2 separate regions of the Homo sapiens genome follow, and region 1 is linked to region 2. Evidence: fine-mapped QTL for protein levels in blood plasma. Region 2 holds a variant in brackets. A gene starts in the other region. All regions are shown on their forward strands. Region 1 holds the start of APBB1IP (amyloid beta precursor protein binding family B member 1 interacting protein). Region 2 overlaps ZNF69 (zinc finger protein 69).

The links. PIP is the chance, under the fine-mapping model, that this variant and not a neighbour inherited with it causes the effect. The UK Biobank Pharma Proteomics Project read protein levels with antibody pairs (Olink). The fine-mapping took linkage between variants from a reference panel, not from the people measured, so its PIPs are less certain.
Region 1: APBB1IP starts here. The variant in region 2 is fine-mapped to the plasma level of the APBB1IP protein (UK Biobank, PIP 0.99).

What each region holds. Positions count from the first base shown.
Region 1 is chr10:26,434,319-26,442,656 of GRCh38, forward strand. It overlaps APBB1IP (amyloid beta precursor protein binding family B member 1 interacting protein), which reads left to right and starts at 4,023. Exons shown (of 15, transcript NM_019043.4): 1 at 4,023-4,137; 2 at 4,334-4,535. RefSeq lists enhancers at 3,340-3,869, 3,587-3,716, 4,277-4,356.
Region 2 is chr19:11,899,351-11,907,688 of GRCh38, forward strand. It overlaps ZNF69 (zinc finger protein 69), which reads left to right. Exons shown (of 4, transcript NM_001364730.1): 2 at 4,223-4,349; 3 at 4,555-4,615; 4 at 5,299-7,346. The coding sequence ends at 6,748. Among named protein-coding and RNA genes, the nearest start is that of ZNF69, 16 kb to the left of the region's middle. The variant C/G (reference allele first, on the strand shown) is at 4,190.

The DNA of each region.
Region 1 (8,338 bases), not on the chromosome of region 2:
AAATACAGTATTTAATACATATAACATAATATGTGTTAATCGACTGTGTTATCAGTAAGTCTTCTGGGCAACAGTAGACAATTAGTAGTCAAGTTTTGTGGGAGTCAAAAGTTATACATGGATTTTCAACTGTGCAGCATTTTGGTACCCCTAAAACCTGGCATTGTTCTGTTACAGTAGGTAGCTAGTCAGGCATGAGCAGGGCAGGAGAGGGCTCCCCTCACCCCCTACCAGGAATGTCAGGCGACTATCAGGTGGTGGTCAGGGGACTGTTAACCGTGTCTCTAAAATAATAATTGATCACAGCCAGCACCAGGGAAAGGCAGTCTCCCAATAGATAGAAACACCTGAAACTGGTGATCAACAGCTTCCAGATAAGATCTCAGGAGTTGGGCGAGTGGGCTCAAGCATGTGCACTAAGAGGTAAAATGGTGGAGTTTAACTGGCAAATGACCTTCCAGGGACATTTGGTAAGGGAAGAATGCCTAAAGTGAACACGCGTACAACTTCAGTAAACACACTGCGCATGCTCACCTCCCAAGTGCTGGCACGCCACTGCTCATGTGGACAGCCCACTCCATGGGAAGAATCAGGAGGAGGAAGACAAGACCCCGAAGTATGTCAATGCGTAAAGCCCCAAGTCAAAAGTCAAACAGCGCACTTCTCTCAAGTCACCCGCTTGGCCCTCTTCCAAGTATAATTTACTTTCTTTTGTTACTGCCCTACAGTTTTCTAATAAACTTTCGCTCCTGCTCTAAAGCTTGCCTTAGTCTCTTCTTCTGCCTTATGCCCCTCAGTTGAATTCTTTCTTCTGAGGAGGCAAGAATTTAGGTCGCTACAGACCCATATGGTTTTGCCAAAGCTAACATATTTTGGTGCCGTGTCTCAGATATATTCTGCTGCTGGCAGTTCAAAGGCCAATTGTATTTTCTTTCCCAACTTAGCTCAGAAGTCTTCCTGCATCTATTCTTTTCTTCATCTGATCCGTTCCCCAAATTATGCCAGAGTGATTTTCCTAAAGCATAAATCCCATCATTTGCCAGCTTAAAATATTATTTAATATATTCTCATTGCTCTTAGGATGAGAAAATAATTCTTGACATAGTCCACATGACCCTACATGGTTTGCCCCTACTGACCTTACCTCTAACCAGACCTTCCATAACTCCAATCATACTGGTTTCCATTCAGTTTCTAATCCCTCTGCCACTCCCTTACTCCCATCCCATTTCCCAGCCCACCCATCAGCAAATGCTATTGGTTCTACTTTGCTAGGTGGTTGTTTGTTTGTTTGTTTAAATAGTCTTGCTCTGTTGCCCAGGCTGGAGTACAGTGGCATCATCATAGCTCACTGCAGATTTGAACTCCTGGGCTCAAGCAATCCTCCTGCCTCAGTCTCCCAAGCAACTGGAACCATAGGCATAAGCCACCATACCCAGCTAATTTTTTCCCCCATTTTTGTAGAGATAGGGTCTTGCTATGTTGTCCAGGCTAGTTTTGAACTCATGGCCTCAAGTGATCCTACCACCTTGGCCTCCTAAAGCACTGATATTACAGGCATGAGCAACTGTGCCAAGCTTTGGTTTTATTTTGAAAACTGTATCTTGATTCCAAACTCTTCTCACCATATCTACTGTTAGAATACTAATAAAGCTACTATCATTTTTCATCTGGACTCTGACCATAGTCTACTGAGGAATCTCTCTTCTCTTGCTTCAATCAATTGATTTTCTGAACAATCACCAACTGGCAGGATGGCTTATCGCTTAAGTCAAATCATGCACTCAGTTGCTAAATACATTCCAATAGTCCCCCATTGCAATTAGAATAAAACCTAAAGTCCTCAATGCTGGCTACAAGGTCCTGCTTGTTCTGGTTCCTGCTTACCTCTCTGTCCCCATCCACTATTGCTGCCCTACTCTTTCAGAACATTCCAGGCACACTGGCCTGCCTTCTTTTGAACTTTCTATGTTCCTATCTCAGCCCCTCTTCTTGTTCTTCCTTCTCTTGGAATCCTTTCCCAAGTTTCTGAATGGCTGCCCCTTCTCATTACTTTGTAAAGAGGTGATCCTTGACCACTTTCCCTGCCCCAAGAAAGTCACTCTCATTGTTTGATTTTATATTTTATGTAGCACTTACAACTCTGCTCAGAACCTTCCACTGGCTTTCCATCTCACTCACATCAAATTCTCTTCCACAGCTCCCAAATAGCACACAATCTGGGCACCATTTCCTTTTGATCCCATCTCATGTCTGTCCCTCCCATCTCACTCTGCTCAGCCGTACTAATTTCCTTGGTGTTTTTCCAATATCTTAAGTGCTCTCCTAACTCAGGGTCTTTGAATGTGCTGTTCCTTTTGCCTGGAATATTCCCATCTAAAAACCCAGTGTGGATTAATCTCTCATGCCATTTAGATCTAGCTCAAGTGTCACTTATCAGACAGAAATACCAGTTTCAGGTGTTTCTGTCTATTGGGAGACTGCCTTTCCCTGGTGCTATATTAAAAAAAATTAGGATAAATAAATAATAAATAAATAAATGAAAAATACATTTTCTCTTCCTTATGATTTTATTAATAACAGTTTCTTTTCTCTGGCTTACTTTATTATAAAAATACAGTATTTAATATATATAAAATAATATGAGTTAATCGACTATGTTATCAGTAAGGCTGATAACAACTGCTTGATCATCACCTGATGGTCACCTGACATTCCTGGTAGGGGGTGGGAGGAGCCCTCTCCTGCCCTGCTCATGCCTGACTAGCTACCTACTGTAACAGAACAATGCCAGATTTCAGGAGTACCAAACTGCTGCACAATTGAAAATCCATGTATGTCTTTTGACTCCCCCAAAACTTAACCACGAATAGCCTACTGTTGACCAGAAGCCTTACTGATAATATTAAACAGTCAATTAACACATATTATGTTATATGTATTTAGATAAATACTGTATTTTTACAATAAAGAAAGCTAGAGAAAAGAAACTGTTATTAAGAAAATCATGAGGAGAAAATATATTTTCTATTTATTTATCGTTTATTTACCCTAATTAATACAGCAACCCCATCCCCATGCCCATCACTCTCTATCCCTCACCTTTTAACTTCCTTCAAAACTAGTTACATTCCTTGACATGTTAAATATTAATTTGTTTATTGTCTGCTTTCTACCAACTAGAATGCACCATGCATGAGAGCAGAAATTGTTTCCTCTAACTATTTTCATTGTTCTTAGAAGTGTTGGTGCTTACGAATAGTTTCTCATTAAATAAATGACAGAACTATTTGAAATTGCCTAATTAACACATGCACCTAATTTCTGTCTTTATGTCTTCACCACCTTCCCTGACATATAAGCCTTTGAAGACACAGCTGTAGAGGAGAAGGGGAGGGTTATTCAACCGCATTTACAAATCATAACTGATTTTAACTTCTGTATTTTCAGACCTCCCCAGCGACTTTCTCTCAGGAAACTCCACTCCCAACTGACAGGTGCTATTTCCAGCCAGTCCTATGCTGTTGCAAATAGTGAGTCCATGAATGCCCTCTGCCGTGTGCATTACTTATTTTCATCAGCAGATCTTCGTAACACACTCCTGGAAGTGGGATGACGGGGTCAAAAGGCGAATCCATACATAAGTTAAATAGATATTGCTCAATTCTCTTCCACGGGGTTCAGACCATTTTGGATTTCTACGAGCAATGAAGACAGTGCTATTCCTCTACACCCTGGCCGGCCAACTGAGCGTGGTTAAACGTGGGGAGGGAGGAGGGTGAGGTTACCAACCTGATGGTTGAGAAAGGGCCTCCGCCCAGCGCGCCCTTCCTCCACCCCCACCCGAGAGACAGCTGAACTCCGGCCGGGACGCGCGTGTTGCCAGTCCAGCCCTGCACCGCGTCCCCTGAGGGCGGGCTGCAGGCGGCCGGGAAGCCTTGCACAACCGGCCCAAAAGAGGAAGCCCAGAAAGTGCTGAAGTAAACACTTTGGGAGACCGTTGCAACATAAAGCGGCCTCTCAGTCTTTGGTGGAACCATCACTAGGCCCCAATCCCTTAGTCCCTCTTGCGTCGAGGCTGCAAAATGGTTCCATTCGCCAGGAGACGCTCCTGAGAGAAGGGCGCGCGCGGCACAGGTAGGGGGAGGCGCAACGTTTCCCAGAATTAAAATAAAATAAAATAAAATAAAATAAAAATCCCTTCAAGGTGGTTGTGTAGTAGGGGTGGGATGGGGGAGAGAAAATCAGGCGCAGACTCGATGAGTTGGAGAAAGCAGCCCCTAACTCGGAGTCCTTTACGCATATGTTTGTCTGTCCCACTGTCTCTAACCAGGGGCCTTCCTTGCACCTCGGAGCAAAGCAGCTCGGATAGCGCCACACGTCTGCGCGCTGCGTGGGAAGGGCAGGGCTGACAGCACTTCCTCCCCGGGGCAGCGACCTGGAGCCCGGGTGCGGCAGTCTGCACCGCGCGTCGCTTTCCCGGCCGGAGTCTCGCCGCCTTCCCGCGCCCCGCAGCGCCCCGCAGAGCAGTCGAGGTAAGTGGCGCTCCCAGTCCCGGGAGCCCTGGGAGCGCCAGCACGGGCCCCTCGGGGCTGTCAGGAACCCGTTTGTCAAGCCCGTCGGGTCCGACGCCGGGGGCAGCTCCAGGATCTGGCCTCGTGAACGCGTGCCCCCAGGCGTGGCCCTCGAGCGCAGCGGGTCCCCAGGGTCCCCTCCGCTGATCTCCACTCTGGACCCGGCTCGCGAGGGTGGGGGTGTGAGGGTTTGGGGTTCGGGTTTGCTTTTTCCCGAGCTATTGCAACAGATTTGACAGATTTCCTGCCCAGGAAATTGCTGCAAGGTCAAACGGGGAACTGCTATGAACCCTTGCACGTCCAGCAGGTCAGCAGGTCAGCAGGTCAGCAGGTCCGGGAGCCCCAGTCTCCCGGAACCTGGAGGGATTCTTGAGGGGCCAAGATTAGATGTGGATTAAATGCCAGCCGTGTGAGAATTTGAGTGTGGCTCGCAGTCTGATGCATCTTAGAGTGTTTCCTTCCTCTAAAACTTTTGGACAACTCTTTCCTCTTTTTAAAAATAACTTTTTCCCCCGAATATTCTCATTTTCATTTTAAAATACCATAAAGATAGATTTGGACACCAGGCACAAGTTTCATAATTTGGCTTGAAATGAATATCCAGAGGGCCTTTTACAGAATGGAGGAAACTAACTAGGGTGTCCTAATGTCTCCAAGAACCTCTGCGCAGGTGTTCCACCAAAGACCTAGCCCGGTGTACCTCTTACTTTCCTGCTAAGGTATTTCTTAGTTCATACCCCTGTGGAACGTGAAATGTGTTTCCTAGACACTCAGGGCATAGCGGTTCAAAAGAACTTTTAATGTGATCCTTGACGAGACGGAGTACTAGAGGAAAGTAACAAAAGAAAAGGGCCCGTGAGTTTATTATGCCCCCAGATGTTTTTTTCTGGTGGCATAACGTGGTTTAAACAAAGGTGCCGGTACTAGCTACTATTCATTTTAAAATCTGGGTCTCCAGAGAGAAATTTCAGAAAGGAAAACTTTGTCCTTTTTCATAAACCTAGAGCAGCGATTTTCCCTCTGGCCTCACTGGAATAATGGGTGGCACATGGGCCAGGACGATGATGCTGGCTGGCGAAATTAGCAAGGATCTGCTGAGAAATACTTTATAAAGTCTTCTAGTGGTATTTCCTGTCTGCTCAACGTGTGTTGTGAAAGGTCTAAGAAATTTAACTTCATCCTTAAACTATTAATAATGTGTGTCCTTAAACTATTAATCCTTAAACTATTAATAATTACTAATATTTGGGTTTTTTCTCAGCACTTGGGAGACCTGGGTTCTGGCTCTTATATCTCCCCCATCTAGATAAGGATGATATTGATTAACTTGCATAACTTCTCCCTGGACTTCAGATAACGTCAGTAAAGTGAGATGATTGGGCTACATTATGTCTGTTCTTAAAATAGCAATTGAGGAGTTGCTATAATTCTTTGAATTGGTCCCAACTGGAATACTGGCAACATTATATCAACATTAGAATTGCTGATCACAAATTTTTTAAAAATGGAGAAAATAATCATAACCATAACAGATTACATTCTGAAATATCAATATCTTTGAGGTCTTTTGTTTCTGAGAAGTTCCTGTAAAAGCGCAGTCAATATCTGGCCTATATGTAAAAAGGCAAATTTCCATCTTATTTGAAAACTGAGATAAGAAACAGCCCAAACTTGAACAGGTCAATATTATATTTTGAAATCTTTAAATTGCTATTTCTCAAGAAATATAACTTTGTAATATGAATTACTTTATGGCATTACTTTAAATCTTAAACACAATACTAGGTTTTATAGTATTTATTACATTTTTTGTATTTTTATATCCTAAGAATGTTCACCAGTTATCCACTATTGATTTGCCTTTTTTCACTCATCAATCAAAGTTTTAAATAGTTCCATATTATTATTAGAATGAGCTACTTATAAAGTTCATTGCCATAAATGTCTGTTTGATATGTCACTTTGAATTTTCTTTAAGCCATCTTACTTCCAAAGAGCATTATTATTTTCATTTTCTTCTAATTCTCTTCAATTTTATTTTAATTATTTTTATGCCTAAAACATTTTAGTGAGTCCACAAATCTTATAATAAATTGTCTGCGTTCCATAGCCTATTGGACCACAATCTTTACAATTTTATAGGACCCCATGAGTTTATATTATGGAGACTACGGTGATCTTAGGAATGCTTGCCTCAAAACAGAACAATTTTTATTAACACAACAGGTATCTTCTCAGTATGAAAATGAATGTGTGTGTTTTATGTCACTGCTGTCATCTAAGAGGCAAGTCACTTAAAGCTTAAGCATTTATTATAAATTCATGTACATAATAAATGCCAGATTTTAAAGTGTAAGATTTCTACACTGGTTGCATGGGGATTTTAAAATACATATTACACTTTTAATTATCGTGAGAAACATGACTTTTAGAGAAAACTGCTAGATATCTGGAACAGTAATCATTAGATTTCTCTTGAAAAGAGAGAACTAGCCGCATGAAGGAATGCCATTACACCTATACCCAGTTAAAGAGACTAGATTGTACCTGCAGCTTGGAAGGGCAGACCCTGAGGACAGCTTTTGGGGGACTAGAGGATGTGACCTGCCACCACTGCATCATCATTTCCTAGCCAATTTGTGATCCCAAAATGAGGACTCCAAAGAGGCTGGCTAAATGTGCAGAATATATTAATCTCACTGAGTGGTACCATGGAAATATCACAAGCCCCTGAGATCCCGTTGGCTCCACTGGTCCCAAACCTCAGGCATGAGCAAGCAGAGAGGTGACACCACTCCAAGGCATCACACGTTCTCATTATTCCACATATTCTGGAGCTTGATTCCGTGACTCAGTTTTAAAACATTTCCTGAGCGTTGACCATGAACTTGAATAATTAAGAATCATAAGAGCTATTTTCTTTCTTCTCTGTCAACTCAGTTTTCTCTTTGATCATCACATAGTAATAGCAAATAATAATTATTATAATGTTTACTTATAAATACTACCAGGCCCTGTACTAATTTAGATGTGTCATCTTGTTAATCATCACATCAAGATGAAAGCACAGAGAGGGTAAGAAACTTACGCAGGAAGTAAGAAACAGAGCTGTTGTTTGAACTGGGCCATCTGATGGTGGCACCCATGAAAAAACCTGGGGCCTTTCCACAATGAGTTTATAGTCTAGAAGAGGAGATGTAACTAGATGTAAGAGGAGATGTAGAATTCCATGCGGAACCAGAGTTGAGTGCTGTGGGACTACATATCAGGGTCCCTGGTCTCCCCAACCAGGGTCACGGGAGAAGGTTGAATAGAAGGAAACCAAGCAAAGAACTTATCGTGTTATCATGGGAAGACAAGTTAATATAATCAACTTTGAAGTTATTATCTTTACGTGTGCCTTGAAAAAAGAATCTGCTTTGTTAGCAATCGTGTGTTTTCATTTTTGTGTTTATTTTATTCTAATCCCACATGACAGCCGGCTAGGTTGATTAAATCAACAAGCAAGCAGTGAGTTTAATATTTTTTCTAATTCTGTTGGGGATCTTTTTGATTTAGTTTCATGTTACAGACTCATCAGTGAGATGGTTGTGGGCTGGGATGGGGGATAAAAGCTAAATCACACAGCAACTGTGTTTCCCCAAACCGACTGGAGGGTTTGCATCCAGAGAGCTACATCACATCAAACTGGAGAGAAACAAAAAATGATATTAGAGCAAGTGAATCATGACTAGATTCATTTCTTCCTTCATGTTTTATTATGA
Region 2 (8,338 bases):
ACTCCCCAGCTCAGGTGATCCTCCTGCCTGAGCTTCCCAAATGCCTGGATTCCACTTGTGAGCCACCATGTCCGGCCACTCATTTTCTTTCATTACTGAGTAACATTCCATTGTACAGATGTTACCATAGTTTGTTTCTTTATTCATCTACTGAAAGACTCATCTTGAGCCTGGTGTGATGCCTCATCCCTGAGTTCCCAGCACACGGGAGACTGAGGTGAGATTGCTTAAGGCCAGAAGTTAGAGAACAGCCTGGTAGATACAGTGTGAGAACTTATCTATTTTTTTTTTTAAAGACTCACCTTGTTTGATTCTAGTTTTTGGCAGTTATGAGTAAGGCTGCTAAAAACATTTGTGGGAGGACTTTTGTGTGGACATCAGTTTTCAGTTCATTTGAGTCAATATGTAGGAATGAGACTACTGAATCAGTAAGACCATGCTTATTTTCTTCAGAGCTCCACAGACTGTCTTCCAAATTGGCTGTAGAATTTTCCATTCACATCCCTAGTGAAGGAGAGTTCACTGTCTCCAGCATTTGGAAGTGTCAGTGTTTTGGATTTTAGCTACTCCACCAGGTATTTGCTGGTGCTTTATTTTTGTTTTCCTTTTTTTTTCCCTTTGGAGACGGAGTTTCGTTCTTGTTGCCCAGACTGGAGTACCATGGTGTGATTGAGCTCACTGCAGCCTCTGCCTCCCGGGTTTAAGCGATTCTCCTGACTCAGACTCCCAATTAACTGGGATTACAGGTGTACGCCGCCATGCATGGCTGCTGTTCGTATTATTAGTAGAGACAGGGTTTCACCATGTTGTCCAGGCTGGTCTCAAACTTTTGACCTCAGGTGATCCACCCGCCTCAGCTTCCCAAAGGGCTGGATTACAGGCATGAGCCACTGCACCCGGCCTGTTTTCATTTGCTCTTTAATAACATGTAATGTAGGGCATCCTGTCATATGTTTGTTTGCCATAATTACATTCTTTAGGGGGAGGTATACTTGGAAAGATTGGGCTTTTTTTTTTTTTGAGACTGAGTCTGGCTCTGTCACCCAGGCTGGAGGGCAGTGGCGTGATCTCGGCTCACTGCAACCTCTGTCTCCTGGGTTCCAGCGATTCTCCTGCCTCAGCCTCCTGAGTAACTGGGATTACAGGCTCACGCCACCAGGCCCAGCTAATTTTTGTATTTTTACTAGAGACGGGGTTTCACCATGTTAGTCAGGCTGGTCTCAAACTCCTGACTTCGGTGATCCACCCGTCTCTGCCTCCCAAAGTGCTGGGATTAAGGCATGAGCCACCGTAACCGGCCTTTTGCTTATTTTTTGATTGGTTGGTTTTTTTCTTACAGAATTTTAGGAGTTCTTTATACCTTTTGGGTACAAATCCTTGATCAGATAGGTGTCTTGCAAATATTTTGTCCCTGTCTGCTGCCTCTCTTTTTCTTCTTTTAACAAAGTCTTTTCCAAAACATTTTTGTTTTGAATGAAGTCCAATTTATCGATTTTCTCATTCACAGATCATGCTTTTTGTGTTGTGTGTGAAACCTTATTGCCAAATCCAAGGTCGTCTTGGTTTTCTCAGTGTTACGTTCTAGAAATTGTGAGTTTTGCATTTTCCATTTAAGTAAATGATTCATTAGGAAGTAGTTTTGTAAAAGGTGCAGTTCTGTGTCTAATTCATTTCTTTGCATTTGCTAATTCAGGTGTTTCAATACCATTTGTTTTGTGCCACCATGCCTAATTTTTTACTTTATTATGGAGACAGGGTCTCCTTATGTTGCCCAGGCTGGTCTTGAACTGAGGGGCTCAAATGATCTGTCTGCCTTGGCCTCTGGGTTTGCATTTTTAGTACATGTCTTTATAGTAGATGTTTCTATGTTCCTAGTGCCTCTCTTGTCATCTTATGGAATCTTCTCTTTTATATTTAATTTATTGAGCATTTTTAATCATCAGGAGATATTAACTTATTTATGCTGGAGGTTGCACTTTTTTGAATTGCCGACGTGTGAAAAATCAGACTTTGGCCATGACCTTAAGCAGTAGGATATAAACAATTCCCACATGCTTAGCGTTCCAAAAAGGGAACACTAGGCATAAATTGGTTAAGGCTTGTCAGATGCCTTTTCTGCCTCTATTAGGACATTCTTATGGTGTTTTGTTTGTTTTAAGAGTCTCACTCTGTTGCCCCGGCTGGAGTGCAGTGGCGTGATCTCGGCTCACTGCAACCTCTGCCTCCCAGGTTCAAATGATTCTCCCATGTCAGCCTTTCAAGTAACTGTGACTATAGGCATGTGCCACCATGCCTGGCTAATTTTTGTGTTTTTTTAGAGATGGATTTCCACCATGTTGGCCAGAGTGGTCTCAAACTGCCGACCTCAAGTGATCCGCCCACCTTAACCTCCCAAAGTGCTGGGATTACAGGCATGAGCCACCATGCCTGGCTGCTACCATGATTTGTTATCATTACTTATCTTAAAACAAAATGTGAAACTTATCAGCTTAAGAAATTTTACATGTACAGTTGAGATAGTTTGACAGATCTACATAAGTTCTCTAAGATGAATTCTATTGTATTTTGCTTTTTTCAATTATCCTGAGGTTTCATGCATGTTGTAGTATAGGCCAAGATGTTATTTTCTTTTTTTTTTTTTTTTTTTTGAATCGGAGTTTCACTCTTGTTGCCCAGGCTGAAGTGCAATGGTGCAATCTTGGCTCACCGCAACCTCCTGCCTCCCGGGTTCAAGCAATTCTCCTGCCTCAGCCTCCTGAGTAACTAGGTTTACAGGCATGTGCCGCCATGCCCGGGTAATTTTGTATTTTTAGTAGAGACGGCATTTCTCCATGCTGGTCAGGCTGATCTCAAACTCTGTCCCTCAGGTGATCTGCCCGCCTCAGTCTTCCAAAGTGCTGGGATTACAGGCGTCAGCCACCATGCCCGGCTAAGATGTCATTTTCTAAGAGTAAATAATATCCCATTTTATATATATGCTTACCACATTTTGTTTTTCCATTTAGCCATCAGTGGATATGTGGGTGGCTGCATTGCTCATTACTGCCACCTCAGGAAGGTGGTATAGTGGTTAAATCTGTGCTTATGACACCTGGGTATCTCTTAAGAGTTTCTTGTTTGCCCTCTTGAGTACATACAGTGCCAGGTATTTTTTAGGAATGTCCCCTTTGCCCTGTCAGCATCTATCTAGCTACATTCTGACAGGATAACTGCAAAATGAATGATTCCTGGGCATCATAATGGAAGTTTCTTTCTACCTAGGTTATTCCCCTCCTCTCTGCTTATATCTAGCATGCCTGATTTGGGTGGTCCCTGGGGGAGTGTGATTTCCCAGGGGCTCCCCCTCCTGCTCTTTGCTACCTACATGCTTCCTCTGACAATATCATCAAAGATTACACTTTGGGAACAGGCATTTTCAAGGATACACAGCCTCAGGACTGCTAATGTTAACTTTTTCTGCATATTAATTCATAGGACTCTGTCATGACAGATGCTACAGTCCAAAGACCCACAGTCCAAAGAGACATTAGGGACAGCCCAGGCAACTCACTTTTCTCCCTGGGTTCGGTAAATACATTTCCTATCCTGCTGTGGCTTTAGCCCTTGTTCAGTTCTAGCATCACAATTGCTTTATGAACTAGCCAGGTGTGGTGGCACATGCCTGTGGTCTCAACTACTCAGGAGGCTGAGGCATGAGAATTGCATGAACCCAGGAGTAAGAGGTTGTAGTGAGCCACGATGGTGCCACTACACTCCAGCCTGGGTAACAGAACGAGACGCTGTCTTAAAAAAAACAACTGCTGGCCAGGCCTGGTGGCTCACGCCTGTAATCCCAGCACTTTGGGAGGCTGAGGCAGGCGGATCACCTGAGGTCAGCAGCCTGACCAACATGGAGAAACCCCGTCTCCACTAAAAATACAACATTAACCAGGCATGGTGGCACATGCCTGTAATCTTAGCTACTCAGGCTGAGGAAGAAGAAGTGGTAGAACCCCGGCAGTGAGCCGAGATCACGCCATTGCACTCCAGCCTGGGCAATAAGAGTGAAAATCTGTCTCAAAAAAAAGAATTGCTTTATGGAAGAAAGTAAGTATACACAGGGAGAAAGAGATCTGATGACCCTTGGAGTCCACGGCATCCTGAGAACTTCTTGAGAATAGAGTCTAGGCCCCCAGTGCTGTCACTCTCA[C/G]CCATCCTCCTCTACACATGTGAGATGTTTCAGGACCCAGTGGCCTTTGATGATGTTGCTGTGAACTTCACCCAGGAGGAGTGGGCTTTGCTGGATATTTCCCAGAGGAAACTCTACAAGGAAGTGATGCTGGAAACTTTCAGGAACCTGACCTCTGTAGGTAAGGATGACATATTCCTTCCCTCAGTCCATTAGTGAACCAGTGTTTCTAGCTCATCAATGCTGTTGAGTGATTTAGAACATAGACAGGAAATACTTTGATGAATAAATGAGGTATGGCTGCAGTAAATCATGGGCATAGAATCTAATAATTTTTTCACAATTTTATACTGCCTCAGGACTATTTTTCTGTGTCTATATTTTAGGAAAAAGTTGGAAAGACCAGAACATTGAATATGAGTACCAAAACCCCAGGAGAAACTTCAGGTAATTTGTACTTACAAGACAAAGCAGTGTCTCTCTAGACAATCTTAGAATATGACAATATATTAAAAATAAGTAAAAGAACTAAGTCCAGGATCAAATACATTTATTTTTAGAATATTTGATCAAAAAACATATATATAAATGTGACCTAGGCTGTGGGCTCACTCCTGTAATCCCAATCCTTTGAGAAGTGGAGATAGGAGGATAGCTTGAGGCCAGCAGTTCAAGAACAGCCTGGGCAACATAACGAGACCACATATCAACAACAGCAAAAAATTAGCTGGGCATTGTGGTCTGTAGTCCCAGCTACTCAGGAGGCTGAGGCAGGAGGATCACTTGAGCCAGTAAAGGCTGCAGTAAGCTATGATGATATCACTGCACTCCAGTGTGGGCAACAGGACGAGACCCCTAAATAAAAGAAAAATGACACAGAGTATTTAGTATTTGTAAAATAGTTTACATGGGAAGAGTATTAAGAAGCCCCATATAAACAGTTTTTTAAATAATAGTTATGGCTGGGTCACCTTGTACAATGGGTTGTCCAGTCACCTTCAAACAATTCAGACAGGGCAGAAAGCCTACACTTTGATGGACAGTGTTAAAAATGCAAGTTCAGTACTTGTTGATTAATATAAAATTACTTATAAACAAACCCTTTGTAATGTGCTTCTCATTTTTGACAGGAGTCTCATAGAAAAGAAAGTCAATGAAATTAAAGATGACAGTCATTGTGGAGAAACTTTTACCCAGGTTCCAGATGACAGGCTGAACTTCCAGGAGAAGAAAGCTTCTCCTGAAATAAAATCATGTGACAGCTTTGTGTGTGGAGAAGTTGGCCTAGGTAACTCATCTTTTAATATGAACATCAGAGGTGACATTGGACACAAGGCCTATGAGTATCAGGAATATGGACCGAAGCCATGTAAGTGTCAACAACCTAAAAAAGCCTTCAGATATCACCCCTCCTTTAGAACACCACAAAGGGATCACACTGGAGAGAAACCCTATGCTTGTAAAGAATGTGGAAAAACTTTTATTTCCCATTCAAGCATTCAAAGACACGTGGTAATGCACAGTGGGGATGGACCTTATAAATGTAAATTTTGTGGGAAAGCCTTCCATTGTCTCAGTTTATATCTTATCCATGAAAGAATTCACACTGGAGAGAAACCATATGAATGTAAACAATGTGGTAAATCCTTTAGTTATTCTGCTACCCTTCGAATACACGAAAGAACTCACACTGGAGAAAAGCCTTATGAATGTCAGCAATGTGGGAAAGCATTTCATAGTCCCAGATGCTATCGTAGACATGAAAGGATTCACACGGGAGAGAAGGCTTATCAATGTAAGGAATGTGGAAAAGCATTCACGTGTCCCCAGTATGTTCGTATACATGAAAGGACCCACTCTAGGAAAAAACCCTATGAATGTACGCAGTGTGGGAAAGCATTATCCTCTCTTACAAGTTTTCAAACACACATAAGAATGCACTCTGGAGAAAGACCTTATGAATGTAAGATATGTGGGAAAGGCTTTTGTTCTGCCAATTCATTTCAAAGACATGAAAAAACTCACAGTGGAGAGAAACCCTATAAATGCAAGCAATGTGGTAAAGCCTTCATTCATTCCAGTTCCCTTCGTTATCATGAAAGGATTCACACTGGAGAGAAACCCTATGAGTGTAAGCAATGTGGGAAGGCCTTCAGATCTTCCTCACACCTTCAATTGCATGGTAGGACTCACACTGGAGAGAAGCCCTATGAATGTCAGGAATGTGGGAAAGCCTTCAGATCTATGAAGAACCTTCAAAGTCATGAAAGGACACAAACACACGTAAGAATACACTCTGGAGAAAGACCTTATAAATGTAAGCTATGTGGGAAAGGCTTTTATTGTCCCAAATCATTGCAAAGACATGAAAAAACTCACACTGGAGAGAAACTCTATGAATGCAAGCAATGTGGTGAAGCCTTCAGTAGTTCCAGTTCCTTTCGATACCATGAAAGGACTCACACTGGAGAGAAACCCTATAAATGCAAGCAATGTGGGAAAGCCTTCAGAGCTGCCTCAGTCCTTCGAATGCATGGTAGGACTCACCCTGAAGATAAACCCTATGAGTGTAAGCAATGAGGGAAAGCCTTCAGATCTGCCTCACACCTTTGAATGCATGGTAGGACACACAATCAAGAGAAACCATGAATGTAAAGAATGTGGGAAACCCTTCAGGTCTGCCCAGAACCTTCGAATTCAGTAAAGGACACAAGCACACATAAGAATGCATTCTGGATAGCTGAACAAAAGGCAGCAGAAACTTCTGCAGACTTAAATGTCCCTGTCTGACAGCTTTGAAGAGAGTAGCAGTCCTCCCAGCATGGAGTTTGAGATCTAAGAATGGACAGTCTGCCTCCTCAAGTGGGTCCCTGATCTCCAAGTAGCCTAACTGGGAGGCACTTCCCAGTAGGGGCCAACTGACACCTCATACGGCCGTGTGCCCCTCTGTGACGAAGCTTCCAGAGGAAGGATCAGGCAACAACATTTGCCGTTCTGCAATATTTGCTGTTCTGCAGCCCCTGCTGGTGATACCCAGGCAAACAGGGTCTGGAGTGGACCTCAAGCAAAATCCAACAGACCTCAGCTGAGGGTCCTGACTGTTAGAAGGAAAACTAACAAACAGAAAGGACAACCACACCAAAACCCATCTGTACATCACCATCATCAAAGACCAAAAGTAGATAAAACCACAAAGATGGGGAGAAACCAGAGCAGAAAAGCTGAAAATTCTAAACATCAGAGCGCCTCTTCTCCTCCAAAGGAACGCAGCTCCTCGCCAGCAATGGAACAAAGCTGGACTTTGACTTTGACGAGCTGAGAGAAGAAGGCTTCAGATGATCGGTAATAACAAACTTCTCCAAGCTAAAGGAGGATGTTCGAACCCATCACAAAGAAGCTAAAAACCTTGAAAAAAGATTAGACAAAATGGCTAACTAGAATAAACAGTGTAGAGAAGACCTTAAATGACCCGATGGAGCTGAAAACCATGGCACGAGAACTATGTGATGCATGCACAAGCTTCAGTAGCTGATTCAATCAAGTGGAAGAAAAGGTATCAGTAATTGAAGATCAAATGGATGAAATGAAGTGAGAAGAGAAGTTTAGAGAAAAAAGAGTAAAAAGAAATGAAAAAGCCTCCAAGAAATATGGGACTATGTGAAAAGACCAAATCTATGTCTGATTGGTGTACCTGAAAGTGACAGGGATGGAACCAAGTTGGGAAACACTCTTCAGGATATTATTCAGGAGAACTTCCCCAACCTAGCAAGGCAGACCAACATTCAAATTCAGGAAATACAGAGAACGCCACAAAGATACTCCTCGAGAGGAGCAACTCCAAGACACATAATTGTCAGATTCACCAAAGTTGAAATGAAGGAAAAAATGTTAAGGGCAGCCAGAGAGAAAGGTCGGGTTACCCACAAAGGGAAGCCCGTCAGACTAACAGCGGATCTCTTGGCAGAAACTCTACAAGCCAGAAAAGAGTGGGGGCCAATATTCAACATTCTTAAAGGAAAGAATTTTCAACCCAGAATTTCATATCCAGCCATACTAAGCTTCATAAGTGAAGGAGAAATAAAATCCTTTACAGATTCAAATGCTGAGAGATTTTGTCACCACCAGGCCTGCTGTAAAAGATCTCCTGAAGGAAGCACTAAACATGGAAAG